Linked DNA regions of Homo sapiens: region 1 is linked to region 2. Evidence: fine-mapped expression QTL. A gene starts in region 2. The other region holds a variant in brackets. All regions are shown on one strand. Distances are between the middles of the regions.

Region 1 (5,382 bases), 32 kb after region 2:
GAACCCACTTTGCTATAATTAGGGTAAACTGCTACTAGACTGGCAGGATTCCTGGGTCATGTTCTCATGGTGGTAACATCCAGGTGTCTCACCTGCATACGGTTAGCTGAATCTGAAATCATAACATGTTTTTATGTAAAAGAATGAGTTAAATTTTATTCATATTAAGAATTAAACTCAAATTGTAAAACACTTATTGTGGTGTCTGGCACAGAATAGGTATCCAATAAATCATAGTTATCATTATCATTATGACTATTACCAGTTTCCAGCTCTTCTCTCCTCAGAGTGCATGTGTGTTTATGTGTGCATGCACACACACACACAGCTAACAGAAGAAAAGCACTGTGCCTACCAACTTGTAGGGACATCCTATTTCACCCAAGTGTATTCTGCTCTCTCTCTCTGGTGAATGTACCGGCTTGTAAGTAGCTACTGTGATTGCCTTCGTCCACAGAGTCTCCAAGTTGAGTGTATATAAGATTAGTCTGAGGACCTTGTTAAAAACAAAGACCACCACTTGAATTAGATCCCATGCTTACAGACTCTGAATCAGCAGTTCTGGGTGGAGCAACAGGAATCTGATTTTTGTCAAACATTCCAGATGATTCTAACGTACGTGCAGCTCCAGCACCACACTTTGAGAAACAGCGTCACTGTGAATGCACAAGGCCACTGCTGCTACTCTATAATACTAATGGATAGTGTATTGAGTGAGCACCTTTGAGAGGCACTATGTTAGGGACTTGTGTATATCTCATTTAATCTTCCTAACAATACTATGAGGTATGCTATTACTAGAAATAATAATGAGAAAAATGAAAAAAGTGAGGCTTGGCAGAGGTCACATCACAATGAGCAAATGGAGAGCCAAGATTTGAACCTAGGCAGCCTAACTCCATATCCCTGGTGCTTAGCCACTTAAATCCCTCCCCTATTGTATTAGTCATGGTTCTCTAGAGGGACAGAACTAATAGGATATATACACACACACACACACACACACACACACATATATGTGTGTGTGTGGGATATATATATATGCTGGGATATATAGATATATATGAATATATATGCTGGGATATATATATATCTATATATATCTCTAGAGAGATATATATATATATATATAGATATATATATAGGAGTTTATTAGGTATTAACTCACATGATCACAAGGTCCCACAATAGGCCATCTGCAAGCTGAGAAGCAAGGAGAGCCAGTCTGAGTCCCAAAACTGAGGAACTTGGAATCTGATGTTTGAGGGCAGGAAGCATCCAGCATGGGAGAAAGATGTAGGCTGGGAGGCTAGGCCGGTGTAGTCTTTCCACGTTTTTCTGCCCGCTTTATATTCTGCCCACCCAGATTAAGGGTGGGTTTGCCTTTCCCAGCCCACTGACTCAAATGTTAATCTCCCTTAGCAACACCCTCACAGACACACCCAGGGCAATACTTTGCATCCTTCAATCCAATCAAGTTGATACTCAGTATTAACCATCACACCTGTTTAGACTTTTCCCATTTCTTTTTTTTTTTTTTCTTTTTTGAGACGGAGTCTCACTCTGTCACCCAGGCTGGAGTGCAATGATGCAATCTCAGCTCACTGCAACCTCTGCCTGCCAGGTTCAAGTGATTCTCCTGTCTCAGCCTCCCAAGTAGCTTGGATTTTCTCCTGTCTTGGCCTCCCAAGTAGCTGGGATTACAGGCGCACACCACCGTGCCTAGCTAACTTTTGTATTTTTAGTAGAGATGGGGTTTTACCATGTTGGCCAGGCTGGTCTCAAACTCCTAACCTCAAGTGATCGGTCCGCCTCCACCTCCCAAATTGCTGGGATTACAGGAGTGAGCCACAGCCAACTTTTCCCATTTCAAGTGAAGAATCCACTTGCCAAAGCCTAATTTTTTCTTCTCTGCTCAGCTTGCTCTGATTGATCTCATCCCATGATAGCAATACCCCATTGGGACCTTTTCCTTGGGACCTTTCCTTCCCCTTCTTTCCCTTCCATTCCTTTCCCTATCAGTCATGGAACTCACACTGCAGTGATAGGCCTCTGCTTCCAGGCCCACAGCTAACTTCGGCAATAACAGCCTCCTGCTTTTGCTCACCAGGAGAGAGGCCTGACACCACTTGGGAATCCACTTAGATCTCAGCCCTCATCTTCCTTTATCCTCCCTCTACCAGCTCGTTCCTATCACCAGGGGTTGAACTTAAGCTTATGATTTCAGAAAGACTGTGTTTGCCCATTCAAATTCCTTGCATGTAAACTGCTTCAGTTTCTTTTACCCTTTTTCTCCTTCCCAAAATAAGCAGGGAAAAGAAAGAAAAATATTTTGACCATACAACATTGCTGGACAGAAAGAGCATGAATTCCTATTATAGTTCTGCTTGGTTTTGTTTTATTCTTTGTTTCCCTGGTAGCTATCTTAGAAATTTCTGGTTCACCTGCTTCATTTCTATCTTCAGAAATTAGGATGAAATAATTCCCGTAGTGATATTTTGCTCATCTCCTAAAGTTTTATAGCTTGGCATTTTGGTAACCTCAATTAAAGTACACACATACAAAAATCTATCCTGTACTAAAGTTTATTGCTATGAAAGACATTTTTAAATGTCTAATGCAAGCTTGTCCAACCCATGGCACTCAGGCCACATGTGGATGAGCCAGGATGGCTCTGAATGCAGCCCAACACAAATTCATAAACTTTCTTAAAACATTACATTATGAGACTTATGCACAGATTTTTTTTTTTTTTTTTGCTCATCAGCTATCATTAGTGTATTTTATGTGTGGCCCAAGACA[ATTC/A]TTCTTCTAATGTGGCCCAGGGAAGTCAAAAGATTGGACACCCCTGGTCTAATGTCTTACAAGAAATTATCTAGTGATTTTCTCACAACCTTAAAAGTAACATTTGAATCAAGCTCTTTTATATGTTTATATTTTCCTGAGTACCCGAATGAATGCCCATTTACACTAAAACAACACCAGTTTTCTTTTTTTGTTTGTTTGAGACAGAGTCTTGCTCTGTCGCCCAGGCTGGAGCGCAGTGGCGCGATCTCAGCTCACACTACAAGCTCTCCGCCTCCTGGGTTCACGCCATTCTCCTGCCTCAGTCTCCCCAGTAGCTGGGACTACAGGCACCTGCCACCAACAACACCAGTTTTCTATAAAGTGGACACAGTTACTTCAATAGTTAACACTAATTATGGTAACATGATATAGTGCAGCTGTTTCCCTTTATAAATGATTCTCAAATAAACCTATTTACTCATGTTCCATTAGCTGGGTTTTTTTTTTAATTTTTGTATGAGACAGAGTCTCGCTCTGTTGCCCAGGCTGGAGTGCAGTGGCGCAATCCCGGCTCCCTGCAACCTCTGCCTCCAGGGTTCAAGCGATATTTGTGCCTCAGCCTCCGAAGTAGCTGGGACTATAGGCATGCACCACCACACCCGGCTAATTTTTTTTTTTTTTTTGTATTTTTAGTTGAAACGGGGTTTTGCCATGTTGGCCAGGCTGGTCTTGAACTCCTGACCTCAGGTGATCTGCCCACATTGGCCTCCCAAAGTGCTGGGATTACAGGCATGAGCCACTGCGACTGGCCCCATCAGCTCTTTTTGCCACTTTGCATGCCATACACTTAAATCTATCCTGACAATGTGTACATGTATTATATATATATATATATATATATATGTATATATATATACATATATATACATATATATATGACAGAGCATTAAAATGTTTATGTAATGAAAACTTTGCCAAAAAATAACATCAAAGACAAAAATCAATAGAAACAATTCTATTGATTTCCAAGATGATCCACTATAACCCAGCTGAGTGCTCTGAGAGAACTAATTACAGCATAAGCTGGGGACCACTATGACAATGGCCACATGGTGGGTGCTGATCCGCTCTCCAGACAGCTGAAAATTCACTTTCCTTGTCAATTCAAAGAAATGGTTTAGAAGATAAAGTAGAAGTGTTAATTCTCCTAATTTCTCATAATCCAAAATTAGTGTATATCGGATTATGACTGCAGATATGAAAGACCTAGAAGCCTGACTTATAAGTAGATATTCCTATTTTGCATATTTGGTAAGCCTACATATAGTAATTTTATCTTTGACTTTTGACTACAGTTTCACCTTACCCAGAAATACCCTAATATTTGCTTTACCTCTTTACCCATGCTTTTGTGGGTCCTCAAACCTTGCCAGGGTGCTGGGTGGACATTAGGTCTGCTTTTGACTACAAAAACTGTAAAATAAATACAGGTTGAATTTTATAACTTTTTCCATTTCTCCTTCCTCTTTTCTTTTTTCTTTTTTTGAGATGGAGTCTCACTCTGTCGCCCAGGCTGGAGTGCAGTGGTGCAATCTCGGCTCACTGCAACCTCCACCTCCTGGGTTCAAGCGATTCTCCTGACTCAGCCTCCCAAGTAGCTGGGATTACAGGCATGTGCCACCACACCCGGCTAATTTTTGTATTTTTAGTAGAGATAGGGGTTTTGCCATGTTGGCTAGGCTGGTCTCGAACCCCTGACCTCAGGTGATCCACCTGCCTTGGCCTCCCAAAGTTCTAGGATTACAGGTGTGAGCCACCACACTCAGCCACTCCTTCCTCTTTTCATATTCCACTCTATTACCTTTGTCTGCCAGCCCTATCCCCATCCACTGGGCTTGCCTGTACTAGCAGTCCCACATTAAAACTCCTCTTATTTCTCCCCTAATTAGCACAAAGGCCAGTTATAGACATTGAGGATGTGGGAGCATATGCCTCTGAGAACCACTGTCCCCAAAACCCCATGGGCTTATACCAGCATGACCAAATCTAGTCATGGTTGATTGGGCCATGATAGACACCTGACTCAAGCTGAGCCAATCAGATTCTCTCTTTTGAGAATGTGAAAGGCGAACCAAGAAATGGCTATCAAGATGTCTATTAGGAAACTGTGTTTTGGATGGGTGCAGGAAGCACACACAAAGAGAAGCTGACAGAGCTGGTCTGCAAAAAGAGAGAAGGAAGCAGAGAGCTAAACTGAAGAAGAGAACAAAAGAGAGAGATGAGGAGCCGTGAGAGAGTTAGAGAGACTGTGTTCAGCTGACCAGCACCCCAGGTTTTTCAGTTCCTCAGTCCTTTGCTCTTGAGGCCTGATTATTCGCTTTCTCCTCACATAGCAAGAGGTAACTCCAAATCCTGAAATCATTCTCTTCTTTTAAGAATAGGCTGCTTTGCTAAAGCTAGTTTGCAGAGAGTTTCTCTTACTTTCAACCAAAAGTAACTCAACTAAGGTACTACACCCTTAGGGAATGTGTTTTTGTGTTTAGGAGTTTCATCATCACTAAACTGAGGGATCCTGAGGCCTTCTTCAGGCCTATA
Region 2 (5,382 bases):
AGCCTTTTCTCTTGGTGTAGAAACAGAGTCATAGACGAGTACTGGGTGAATGAATGAAGTATGGAGTCATAAAGTCAATCCCTCCTCCAAACTCCAGGTAGCACTGATAGCTATCTCTAGTTCTGTTGATGTTTTTTGTTCTTATAGAAAAACAGCAAGAAGACACCATTTCTCCCCTGCTGTCATGCTTTACTGCATCTCAGAATGACAGTCAGTGCTTCCCAAGGTCTCACACAGAAGACGCAAGCAGCCTGCACACATAATTTGGTTAAACTGCACGCACATTAAAAAAAATGTTTTGAATCAGTTGCTATCTTTAAAAATATATGAAGCTTGTTTTCCGTAAAAATTTACAGTTTCCCCCAAAACTAAGATCAGGCAACCATGTGCTGGAGCCCCACCGCACCTGCAGCTGCCCCCTTACTGGAGACAGGCTTAGCAGCACACAGCTCCCACCCAGCCCTCCTGTCCACCCGCCTCCTGCACTCAGGCTTCCTGACTGGTCCCTGCTGGCAGTGGAGTTTACACCACAGAACTGTACCTCCTCTTGCTGACATTTAGGTCAGTTCCAGTTCAGCCCATTCTGTCTTCCTCGGAACCCAAACAGAGAGCTCGCAGCCCTCTGACCACACAGTGCTCCTTCACCTCTCAGAGGACGCACAGTGCACCAGGCTGCAACACAAAGAGAACGGTTCGGATATCGTTGCGGCCTTGGATTAGTTCCAAAATGTCAAGCGGGCCTCTTAATGAGGGGTCTCTATTCTTGATGTTATGGCAGTGGAGCTACAGGGCAGGGAGAAGCCCTGAGTTAAAGAACTCACCTGTGTGCCATCAGGAAACCACGTGAAAAGCACTACCAAGGCAAAAGATCTGAGTTCAATCTGGGCTGCTTACCTAGCTGGGCAAGAATGCTTCATCTCTCCTGAGCCTCAGTTTCCTCACCTATCAAATGGGCTAGTAGAGCTTCACAAGGTTGTTGTGTGAATGAAAAAGTGTACATGAAAGTGCTTGTAAGCACCTGACAAGTATAAAATAAGACGGGTGTGGAGGAGGACCGGAAGAGAGGTGCTCTGAAAGAAGTAACAGAAATGGGTGCCATGCATTCCAGTTACAGTTGAAGAGCCTCTGTCTCTATGACCTGAGGTCCCTCCCACCTCCTCTTTCTGCCCTGAGGGCCTGAAAAATGCCTCTCTTCACTTGCTCCCAGTGGCTGCAGTAAAATAGATTATAAGGGAAAACCGCCTATTCCCCGAAGCAGTAGCTCTCCAGAACTCATCTGGAGGTCCAGGTCACTAGGGGAGAAGAAGCCAGGCTGAATCCACGCCTGGCTCCACGGAGGAGCCACAAGGATGGCCATCCTCCCCCAGCCCCTAGGACGCTGAGACAGGCTCACCGGAGGTTATCGGTGTCTCCATTGGACAATCAAGGAACTGAGGTTCTTTCCCTCCAAAACCACACACCTCCTCACGGCTTCACCGGGAGGTGGATCAAATGACCTGCTCTATGAAAGCACTTTGCAAAAGGGATGAAAGTACAATAACAAGCAAAAATAGCCTCCAAGATGTGATATAAAGCGATGCCAATGCGCAGCTATGTGGTTACTGGTGAGCAGACCTCCGGGAAGCACAGGACACACCCCACTTACCCAACAGACGTTCTCATCCCATATGCCTTTGTCCAAAGGTTGCACGGGGGTTAAGCTTGGCCCAGAAGGCGCCGAGGGCTGGTCGAGTTCTCCCCTTTCCAAGAACCAGCCGAATCTCCCTCCCGCAGATCTGAGGGGCAGAGCCGCCCATCCGGCGGCGCCGGGCCACTTCTGGGCGCGCCACCCGCCGCCCGCCCAGGCTCGGGGAGACAGCGCCCTGAGTCCCGGCTGGGAGAAGGCTGCTCACCTGGTCCTCACGGATTCCAGCCGAGGGGCGTGACCGCTTCTCCCCACACCCTTTGCCCTGAGCGGGACGTGGAGTCTCTTGGCCCCAGGGGGCGCGGCCCGCATCGGCAGAGTCCCGGGCACGCACCTACGCCCTCCCATCCAGCGGACTGTTTAGGGGCTTCGGGCGGCGCCGGAGAAACGGGGCGGGCTGCACCCAGCAGAATGGGGTGGGCCTCTCAGAAGCCCCAGGCCGCAGGGGAGGGGCGCGCCCCCAACATCTTCCCACAAAGAGCTCCAGCTCTCCAAAGCAAGGCGCAGTGCGGGCGGAGGACAGCCCTGACCTCCGAGAGGGGCGCGGGGAGAAAGGGAGCGCCGTGGGGGCGGGGACCCTTCCCGGCCCGCGCCCTGAGCCCTCAGCCTCGCACAATGAGTTTAGCCTGGCTCCATCCGGACCGCCCTCTCCGCCCGGGCCCGCGCCCGCGCCCCACGCCGGGTGCTCACCGAGGAGCGGCCGCCGCGGCAGCTCAGGCCCCGGCCCAGCCGCCTCCCCGCCTCGGCCACCGCCGCCGCCGCTTCCTTCCTCCCCGCCGCGCTCCGGGACTGGAGGTTTCGGGTTTCAGCCCACCGAGCCCCGCTTCGCTCCTCCCGCGGGCCAGCCACCAGCACGCGGACCCGGGCGGGCGCAGGCCAAGTAACTTTGCGGCGCCCGCGCCCCGCCCCGCCCCCCCCACGCCCGGCCGGGCCCCTCCGGCCCCCGGAGCCCCGAGCCGCCTCCCCGCGCCCCGCACTGCCCCGCCCCGCCCAGCTCCCGGCGCCCCTCCCCACCCGCGCCCCTTCCTTCGCGTCCGTCCGCCCGCCCTCCCGGCTGCTTCTTTCCCATTTCTTCCCACGAACAGCCTCGGCTGCTGCTCTTTGTCTCGCCCTTACCCTCTCGGCTCGCCCCACTTTTCTCCTGAAAACCTTTGTGGTGCCTAACTCAGGCCTTCCCTGTTCCCGTTCCTCCGCCCCAGTTCCAGCCGCTGGGACGTCGCCTTTTCCATGTCTCTCTCCATCACACAGACACTTTCAGATTCTTCCCGCAGGCTCCGCACAGTCCCATTCTCCTCCTCCAGTCCCGCCGTGGACGATCCTGGTATCGCCTTTGCTGCTCACCTTTCATTCATCCAGCCGACGGGCACGAGCATCCATCTGCCTTCTGCCAGGCTCTGTCCCGGGCTCTGTTAATACCACAGTGAATTCGTCCCGAAGCCAGCCCCGGGGAGTGGGGAGTGGACGTAAACAGGTCTTCACACTGCTGCCCTGCACTCCCTCGGAACCAAAAGGCCAGGGAGCAGTCATCACAAAACAAAGAGCGGGCGCTGTCAGCTCGGGGGACGGAACAGTTCCTTCTCAGAATGTTTGTTTTCCCTTCCTCACTCCCCACTTTGCCTGCCTGTCTCCAGACTCCTACGTTTTCTATGCAGCAGTCTTAATAAGGGGATGAAAAGTTGAAGCACAGAGTAGAACTGCTAAAAAGGGAAAGAAGGAAGGACAAACAGGGCAGCAAAATAATCAGGTAAGAAGTTACAAAGCCCAGTTCACTAAACTCCAGAAAAAAAAAAACAAACCCTGATGCTGTGCTTAGAGCAGGATTCACATTCCTCTGAAATCCATCTGCTTTGATAAATACATTAATTATTCCCTTGTCTACAGATTGACACTGTGGGAGATGCTTCCTTAATATTATTGGGCCACTGAGGCACAATTTAGAACAGTAATTTACTGTCTGGCACCTGCCAAACACCCACATTGCTCTGGGGACAAATGGGATAATGGGGAGAAAAAAGTAAATGGGTGCCTTAATATTCCTATGGGATAAATGCTTTATTTGGTCAAAAACTGGAAGCTGACGCTCCACTTAAGAGTCTAGGTCACGCGGCAAGCCAGACACTTGAAGGAGCTTAAAGCTTTCTGTTCTTAATAGTATTTTAGACACTTATTTTGAAATCCCTGATATTTATTTAATTTACACTGACTCAGATGTCGGCTAAGCTCTATGAGCCTGAGGGAGTGAGTTAACCTTCCTCTCAGCTTATTCATATATAAAATGGGGATACTCATACTTTCCTATCTGTAGAGTTGAAAAGGTTAAATGAGGTCATGTAAGTAAATCATCCAGTGACATAGAATCTGAGAACTAAACCCTTTTGAAAATTGGTATTCACGAAAGGTCTGAAAATATATGCCACAGACTGGCATGGTGAGAATGAGAATAAAAAATAAACAGTTACGGCTGTTGTGGCTCCATACCCATCCATGATGCGAAAGATGTCCTTCATACTGAGCAACCTTTTCCCATACTTACTCTATTTCATTTTGAACTCTTCAACAGAAAACACTTTTTTTCTCCTGCTGCTCATTATCAAATGCATTATTTATCACAAAGATTTTTCTTTTTTCTGAGCTCATAAGCTCAGAACTTACTGTGCATTCAGGGATGGAAATTGCTGCCAACAAATGCATTTTCAATTGCTCTCTTAAGATTTTTTTCCCTTCTGGAGCTAATATTGAGCTATGAGCAGAATTCAATCAGATGCAGAGAAAACAGACAAATTATTATTAAAGTAATTATTTCACCGTATATCATTGTATAGGTGACAATTGTGAAAAACGTGACTGATTTTGTGCAAGAATGTATTTATATTTTTTTAGAAAAAGAGAAAGATACACACTAATTCTCCTTTCCCAAATTAGTTTAATAAACCATTCTGTTTTAGAGACATCCACAAAGACTTATAAAGTAAGATAATGAGAGGCCTTGTCCAACTGAACCTCACATGTGTGTTGAATAATTTATATATAAAACATATTTTATGTAAAATATCATTTCAGTCTAGCAGTCCACATAAAACTGGTGAAAGCAAAACTGTGAAATATGCTATTTGTTCCACATGGAATGTTATTTCCTCCACTCTTTACAGGCCAAGCCCTTCCTGCCCTTCACATCTCACCTTAAATGTCACTTCCTTAGAGAAGTCTTCCCTGATGGGATCTTGCTATGTTGCCCAGGCTTGTCTTTAACTCCTGGGCTCAAGCTATCCTCTCACCTTGGCCTCCCAAAGTGCTGGAATTACAGATGTGAGCCACTGCACTCAGCCCCTGACCAATCTAAAAGAAATTCTCTAATCTATGTACTCTTTCACAGCTCTGTTGTTTTTCTACATAAAATGTGTCCAAATTTATAAAATATGCATCAATTTTTCTATTTATTTGTTTACAGTATGCCTCCACTGATAGAATGGTAAAACCATTTGACCTCAGATGGAAACTTCCCTGAAACTGATGTGCCTCTGGACTGATCAGAAACAAGAGCCAATCAATATACATATATTTTTATTGAATCAGTATGGGTTTATTTCTGTTACTTGGAACAGAAAGCATCTCACTCAGTGATTCTTAATACGACATTTTGAAAGGCATTTTGGGTTTGTCACAATGATTAGAGGACACCCCAGGCATTTATTGGGTGC

The links. PIP is the estimated chance that this variant, and not a neighbour inherited with it, causes the effect. A credible set is the group of variants that fine-mapping cannot tell apart.
Region 1: its variant is the best candidate, but not a certain one, in a credible set for the expression of GPR161 in cerebral cortex (GTEx, PIP 0.85).

The regions. Positions count from the first base shown.
Region 1 is chr1:168,165,895-168,171,276 of GRCh38, forward strand. No RefSeq gene overlaps it. Among named protein-coding and RNA genes, the nearest start is that of TIPRL, 10 kb to the right of the region's middle. The variant ATTC/A (reference allele first, on the strand shown) is at 2,803.
Region 2 is chr1:168,134,365-168,139,746 of GRCh38, forward strand. GPR161 (G protein-coupled receptor 161) reads right to left here and starts at 2,566. Exons shown (of 6, transcript NM_001375883.1): 1 at 2,375-2,566. RefSeq lists silencers at 2,209-2,438, 2,967-3,261.